Linked DNA regions of Homo sapiens. The protein of the gene in region 2 interacts with the protein of the main gene of each other region in a pairwise test. Each region holds a gene or a part of one and is shown on either strand. Other genes may lie near its edges.

Region 1 (3,810 bases), on a different chromosome or scaffold from region 2:
ACCTCAGGACAACCCTGAGAAGGTGGTATCGGTGTTCAGCTCATCCCCATTTTACTGATGGGCAAACTGCGGCCCATGTGCCCAAGGAAGGTCCCTGGGAGCTGGGAAGTGGCAGAAGTGGACTAGAATCCAGGCTGTCTGCCCAGAGTCCCCTCAGCTAACAGGTAATGCTGCCGGTTATGAAAAGGAAGGGAGGGCTGGGCGCGGTGGCTCATGCCTATAATCCCAGCACTTTGGGAGGCCAAGGAGGCTGGATCACCTGATGTCAGGAGTTCGAGACCAACTCCTGGCCTGGCCAACATGGTGAAACCCCATCTCTACTAAAAATACAAAAATCAGCTGGGCATGGTGGTGGGCACCTGTAATCCCAGCTACTTGGGAGGCTGAGGCAGGAGTATCGCTTGAACCTGGGAGGCAGAGGTTGCAGTGAGCCGAGATTGCACCACTGCACTCCAGCCTGGGTGACAAGAGTGAGACTCTGTCTCAAAAAAAAAAAAAAGAAAGGGAAGGGATGCCGGAGATAGGGTCCGGCTGGAGCACTCACCAGATCCTCCACCGTGGCGGGGCCCCGGGATCGGAGCCGCAGGGTCCCTCGGCCAGTGCCCAGTTGTGGGCCAGAGCCAGGGCGGCCACCCGCTGAACGCTGGCTGATCATGTCTGTGGGAGGCAGGAGAGGAGTGAGTGTGGGGGAAGCTTGGTTTTAGCACGTTCTGGGCAGGAACTTGTCCTTCCTGGCTTTCACCACCACCCCAAACTTCTCCAGGCTTCTGCAAGTTTCTGGGGGCTGGGGCCGGGGTGATCCCAGGAGGGCAGGAATCCTGACTCAGGCCTGGCATGGATGTGGGGCAGAGCAGGGGGAACAGCTGGGGGCCAGGAATAGGAAATGCTGGAGGGGAGACTGGAGGGGCCACTTCTGCTCCCAGGGGCTGGGGGACAGGAAGCAGGTGTACCCCAGCCTGAGTCTCCAGCTGCCTGAGTCCGTCTCCTCTTGGCCAAGGGGGTATGGCTGCTGGGCCACAGACCAGCCCTACCTGCCCAGGGAAGTGATTTAGTCCCCCACCCCCACCTCAGGGGCCTGGGGCCCATTCCTGAGAGTTAGTGAAGCCAGATGGAAAAGTGGGGGGGCTGGCACTGAGCAGTCAAGCCTGGCCTGTTGGGGATAGGGGGCTGGCCAGGGCTGAGGGCGCTTGGCTGGGCTAATGGCCCCTGGAAGCTAGGTGTGAGGGCAACTTCCTCCTCGCCCCCGCCCTTCTCCCAGGCTGGGCCAAGGGCCAGCACCCCGTCTGGGGTCGGGAGGAGCTGCAACCCCTTCCCTTTCTGCAACCCCTTCCCTTTCGGCAGGCCAGGCTTGGGCGCCACCTGCTGGCCGCTCCCGGCACCACCGCCTGCGCCCATGCGAGCAGCGCCACTGGGGAGGTCCAGGGGGCGGCTCCTCACCGAAGGCCTTGCGAGGCTCCGTGAGCTTCAGCGTGAAGGTACGGCCTCGGGGCAGCTCCTTGAGCAGCCGGGCCACCTCGTAGTGCCGGCAGCCCAGCAGGCTCTGCCCGTTAATGGCCTCGATCATGTCGCCCACGCTGATGAGGTGGATGTGGTCGATCACGCTGCCCTCCTTGATGCGCTGCGGGGGCGGGGAGTCATCAGCCCTTGGGGCTCTGCCCTGGTTTCCGGGGTCCCATGGCCCACCCTCACTCCCAGGCCTCCGGGGTGCCCCGTCTCCCCAGGCACCTTGATGAAGGCGTAGCCAGCCCCGTTGTCCGTGATGGTGAGCCCGAGTGCATCCTCCGACTTGAACACCTCCACCTCCTTGCGCTGCCCCTTCACGTGGGCGAAGATGAAGTCCTCCAGCCCGATCTGGCCCCCCAGGAGCTTGTCCATGTCCACTTTGTGGGTGTTCAGGGTGCAGAACATCACCTGCAGGGGTGGGAGACGCTGAAACCTCTTCCCCCTCCCTCCCCCTTTTCTAATCACCACTGGAGGGCGAAGGGAGAGAGCTGGGAGAGGACTAGGGGGATTCCATCCCAGTAACTCATCACCCACTGAGCCTGAGCCAGGGCCACAGCAGGGCCCACATTAGCGTGTCAGCTCTGCTAGGACTAGGATTTAGTTTTCCTTTCTCTTTTTGAGACAGGGTCTTGCTCTGTCACCCAGGCTGGAGTGCAGTGGTGCCATCATAGTCACTGCAGCCACAACCTCCCAGATTCCGGCAATCCTCCCACCTCAGCCTCCCAAGTAGCTGGAACTACAGGTGCTCGCCACCATGCCTGGCTAATTTTTGTATTTTTTGTGGAGATATGGGGTCTCACTATGTTGCACAGGCTGGTCTCCAACTCCTGGGCTCAAGTGATCCTCCTGTCTCAGTCTCCCGAGTAGCTGGGACCACAGACACGTGCCACCACACCCACATAGTTAAAATAATTTTTTTTAGAGATGGGAGCCTCATTATGTTGCCCAGGCTGGCCTGGAACTCCTGAGCTCCAGTGATCCCCCCATCTCAACCTCCCAAGTAGCTGGGACTATAGGTGTGCACCACTGTACCCAGCTAGGATTTCGGTCCTAGCAAAAATTCATTGCTGTGCCAGGTGCGGTGGCTCACGCCTGTAATCCCAGCACTTTGGGAGGCCGAGGTGGGCAGAACACGAGGTCAGGAGATCGAGACCAACCTGGCCAACATGGTGAAATCCTGTCTCTACTAAAAATACAAAAATTAGCTGGGTCTGGTGGCGGGCGCCTGTAATCCCAGCTACTCGGGAGGCTGAGGCAGGAAAATGGTTTGAACCCAGGAGGTGGAGGTTGCAGAGAGCCAAGATCGTGCCACTGCACTCCAGCCTGGTGACAGAGCAAGACTCCATCTCAAAAAAAAAAAAAAAAAAAAAAAAAAAATTCATTGCTGCTTTCAGGGAACGGAGCCTGGCACACAGTGAGTGCTCAGGAAATGCTTGTGGAGGACACAGAAACTCATCCCACTTAGGGAGACCCCTGCGTCTACTTCTTGCTCAAACCCACTATTGCCCTCCTTGACCCCCTCCCATCTATCCCCACAGTGCTTGGCACCAGGCAAGCCTGCCTCCCACAGCGTTGAGTTTCTCCAAGGCATCACGGAGAAGTGCATCTCGTATCTGGCCTCTAGCCTCCACCATCTCATGGGGCACTGGCCTCCCAATGCCTGACAGGAACTCAGCATCCAGCCCTGGCCATCAGCTCCCACAGTCTGTAGAGGTGCAGGCCTCTCAGTGTCTGATGGGAACTCAGCATTTAACTGTGGCCATCAGCTCCCCACAATCTACTGGGGTGCAGGCCTCCCAACGCCTGATGGGAACTCAGCGTCCAGCCCTGGTCGTCAGTTTTGCACAATCGACTGGGATGCAGGCCTCTCAATCCATCCATCCAATCAATCCATCCAGCCCTGGCCTCCCACAGTCCATTGGAGCTCAGGTCTCTCAGTGCCTGTTGGGAACTCAGCATCCACCCCTAGTCTTGCACAATCTACTGGGGGTACACCCCTCCTAATGCCTGATGGGATGTCAGCATGCAGCCCTGGCCATCAGCTCCCACAATCCACTGGGGCACAGGTCTCCCAGTGCCTGATGGGAACTCAGCATCCAGCCCTGGCCTCCAGTTCCCCACAATTCACAGGGGCACAAGCCTCCCAGTGCCTCATGGGGACTCAGCATCCAGCCCAGGCCATTGGCCCCCACCACTGAGTGGGGCCCAGGCTCAGCATCTGCAGCTTCAGCATCTGAGCCCCAGCTCATGAACAGGATGCAGGCCCAGACCTCTGGTCCACCATCAGGGACCCTGGTGCCCGGCTCC
Region 2 (3,810 bases):
AATGGGGCAGGAAAGGTCCATTAGTCCCAGCTTGTGCAGGGCTGTATGTGCCAGGCTGTGCCATTTGAACTTCCCATAGTGGATAATGGGGAGCTATAGAAGATTTATGAGCAAGGGAGGGTTTTGCTTAGGGCTGTACTTCAGGAAGTTTCAGCTAATAGCAGGGACCAGGATAGACAGTTTCTGCCAACTCTTAGAAGAAAACTTTCTCCCTCCCTCTGTTATTTTCTTTCTCCCCCACTTCCGTTCTTCCTTCCTTCCTCCCACAAATATTTATCAAGCATCTACTATGTGCCAGGCCCTGTTCTACAAGCTGCAAACTGAGAAGTGAGTAAAGCAATGTCTTTGCTCATATGCCCTCATTCAGTGTACAGTATAGTGGCAGGAGGGCATATAGAGAAAACAAGAAATATGTATTAAAGGTAACAAGAGCTCCAAGGAAAATAACGGCTGGAAGAGATGGGAAAGGCTTGCCAGAGGAGGTGGTCAGGGATGGCCTCACTGATGGGATGGTGTTTGAGCAGAGACCTGAAGGAAGGAAGGGAGCAGTGTCAACATCTACAGGAAGTGTGTGCCTGGCAGAGGGAATAGCGTATGCAGAGGCTGTGAGTTGGGAACAGACCAGCTGGGAGGCCAGTGAGGCTGGAGTGAAGTAAACAAGAGTAGAGATGAGGTTTGAGAGAGTGGGAGGCTGATTGTTCAAGACCTTGTCCATCGAAGGCATCGAAGGCTTTGGCTTTGACTCTGGTGAGATAGGAGCCATGGGAGTATTCTGAGCAGGGGAGGAACAGGCAAGTTTTGGGGACAAGTTGAGAGGAAGCAAAGACACCAGATCATCAGATAAGACAGGAAACGTCTGCCTTTGCTAAGCTTTTCCATTCTTGGGCTGGAATCACAGCCCCCCACCCACTACTCGCCCCACTGTGCCAAGGAGAGACTCCAAAAATGCATGTGCTTGAATGAATGCAGGAATGCCAGGTGGGCTATTTTGGGGCTCTCCGATGCTGGCAGGATTGACTCAAATCAGCTTGCGTGTGTCGTGTTTGCTGGCTTAAGAGGGCAGAAACGCTCCTCATGAATAATGCAGCCATATCCACCCGATGCGTTTTGATGCTTTTTCAGGTCTCTGGCAACCTGGCTTCTGGGAGCTTTTGCTAGTGATGAGCATCTGTGGCAGCTTAGGCACCCTGGTTCGATGTGGTGAGGATGGCAGGAGGGCCCCTGGCTTGCCTGGCTGTGTCTCTTGTACCATATGGCTGGGTCTCCCCCAGCCACCTCATGAGGTGCTCCAGGAGCTGGTGGTAGCATTTGTTGCTGGCTGGCCGGTAGGAAAGGGCATTTTGGTCACCCCTAAGGGCCCGCAGTTGCTGTCTGCAGAGCCCAGGATGGGAGGTGAGGAGACCTGTGTCCTTGTTCCAGTTCTGACCCCAACAATGCTTGTGGCTCCTAACAGGTCCCTTCTCAAGGTCTCACTTTCCTGCTTTCTAAGTGGACGAGGTTGGACAGCTCCAGGATTCCAAGAACCTCAACTCATCTAATTTGGCCAGTGTCACTCTCTGAGAGCCAAGTCTTTGTTTTTTCCACTCTGAATTTGCCAAGTATTTATTCAAGACTAATTAAAACTAAGTAGCTGGTAAGACTTTTGGAGTGCCTTCAGTTCACTCAAGGAAAACCAGGGCTTAACTAATGTCATTCTAATGGGATAAAGATTAAAAAAACAAAACAAAACAAAACAAAACAAAAACTAGCATATACTGGCATTTTATATTGATGACCTCATTTAATTATTGATCCCCCATGAAGTAGATAAAATCCCCTCTTTTATGGATAAGGAAATCGAGGCACAGAGATGGCAAGGAGTTCGCCCTAAGGTCTCAGAGATTGTTGTTGGTACAGCAAGGGGTCTGGCTGCACAATCCTCCTCTGTATCACTCTTGAGCTAAAGCCAGCAATCCACACAGGGTTCCAAGCTCCACCGAGAGTGTGGGGTCAGGGAGAAGGCCACAACAGCAAGGGCCTCAATTACCACTATGCTATCACTGTCAGGCAGTTGGCAGTATTTATGGAGGGGTCAGGCACACCGCGTGGCTCACCCTTTTGGGAGTAAGATGGACTCAGTCCCAAAAGGACACTTTGCCGCCCTTTCTGGTCACATCTGAACTTAAAAGATGCCCTCAGCACAGGATCTTGCTGTCTCTAGGTAAGCCCTGACCTGGAGGTGCTACAGCCCCCAGGGCAGTGCTGTGGAATTTAGTCAGAAGAGATATTTCTTGAGGTCCAAAGGGACAAGCCCTCTAATGGGCTGAGTCTTGGCTGGCTGCATCGCCATCATGGGGAGGGCAGCTGGGTCTTCCCTCTGAGGCTGGCTGCCCATCAGCTCCTGGAGACAGTCCCTCAGCCTAAGGAGCTCAGAGTCCCTGGTGACTTTCCTGGCCCTGCACTTGGTTGCTGTGCACCCCTGGACAAGGGGGCTAAGAATGCTAAACTCAGATGTGGGGCAGTGTATTTTTCTTTCACTTAGTGATATAGAAGATGAGATGAATAGATTTCTATGTTTTTTCTTTGCACAATTTTGCAGGAACTCAGATTGTGGGTATTTGCAAAGAACAGTAACAGTTCCTTTTGCAGTAAGGCCTCATTGAGAAAATGGATAGCTGAGGTCCTGAGAGTTCAAGAGACTTGGTGATGTTACCAAAATGCTGGGGTGTTGGTGTGGGTCCTGCTGCTGGCCACACAGAAGGCCAATCACTGAGATAAGTATTGCCCGGGAAGAAGTCTTTAGTTGAGTCCCGCAGCCGAAGAGATGGGAGATCAGGCTCACATCTATCTTCCTGACCAACTAAACTCAGAGGTTTATATAGCAGGAAGAAAATTTAAGTGCATGGAAGAAAACTGGAATTAGAGGGGCTGGGTGCAGTGGCTCACGCCTGTGATTCCAGCACTTTGGGAGGCCGAGGCAGGCGGATCACGAGTTCAGGAGATCAGGACCATCCTGGATAACATGGTGAAACCCTGTCTCTACTAAAAAAATACAAAAAAATTAGCCGGGCGTGGTGGCGGGCGCCTGTAGTCCCAGCTACTCAGGAGGCTGAGGTAGGAGAATGGCGTGAACCTGGGAAGCAGAGCTTGGCAGTGAGACGAGATGGCGCCACTGGAGGGCGAAAGAGTGAGACTGTGTCTCAAAAAACAAACAAACTGGAATTAGAGAGGGGTAAGGAAAAGGAGTTGGTCAGCAGGAAGCAGGTGGTGGGTTATGCAGTCATGCTGGGTAAGGGGTGTTGCATCTCTGTCCAGATGCAATGATCTGGTAAGTTTCAGTTCCTTGGGGGAGGCCTGATGTTTGGTTTCCTGAGAAAGGAACTCAGATAAGACAAATGTAACTTTCTGGAGTTTTAAAACTGGGAGGGTCAGTTTCTATGTATATTCAAAAGAAACCATAAACATTAGTTCTATGGGATAGTTGGGCCAGTTTCAGTGATACTTGGGGCATTGAATGAATTCCTTTTTAATTATTATTATTTGGTAAATTATGCTTACTTGGTAAATTAGAATTGTAGCAACTACCATTTACCAAATATTGCTGTAAGTGCTTTGCTGTCTCATTTAATCCACAAAACAACCTTCCTACACAGTAGGTACGAGTAGCAACTGCTTTTTACTGACAAGGAAATTCATGCTCAGAGAGGCTAAGAAACTGAACCAGGACTACAGAGCTGAGAAACAGCAGAGCAGGGTTTGTTAGCCAGCTCCATCCTCCATCCTTTTCAAGTCGGATAAACCCTGATAAAACTAGGTAGAATGATAATAAAC

The links.
Region 1: the proteins of SGSM1 (region 2) and GIPC1 interact in binary tests that used the Homo sapiens proteins (3 or more experiments, as listed by UniProt).

What each region holds. Positions count from the first base shown.
Region 1 is NC_000019.10:14,478,868-14,482,677, forward strand, and holds part of GIPC1 (PDZ domain-containing protein GIPC1), read right to left. Parts: intron 1,912-3,810; coding exon 1,726-1,911; intron 1,619-1,725; coding exon 1,438-1,618; intron 658-1,437; coding exon 545-657; intron 1-544. UniProt on the Homo sapiens protein: May be involved in G protein-linked signaling.
Region 2 is NC_000022.11:24,812,556-24,816,365, forward strand, and holds part of SGSM1 (small G protein signaling modulator 1), read left to right. Parts: intron 1-3,810. UniProt on the Homo sapiens protein: Interacts with numerous Rab family members, functioning as Rab effector for some, and as GTPase activator for others. Promotes GTP hydrolysis by RAB34 and RAB36.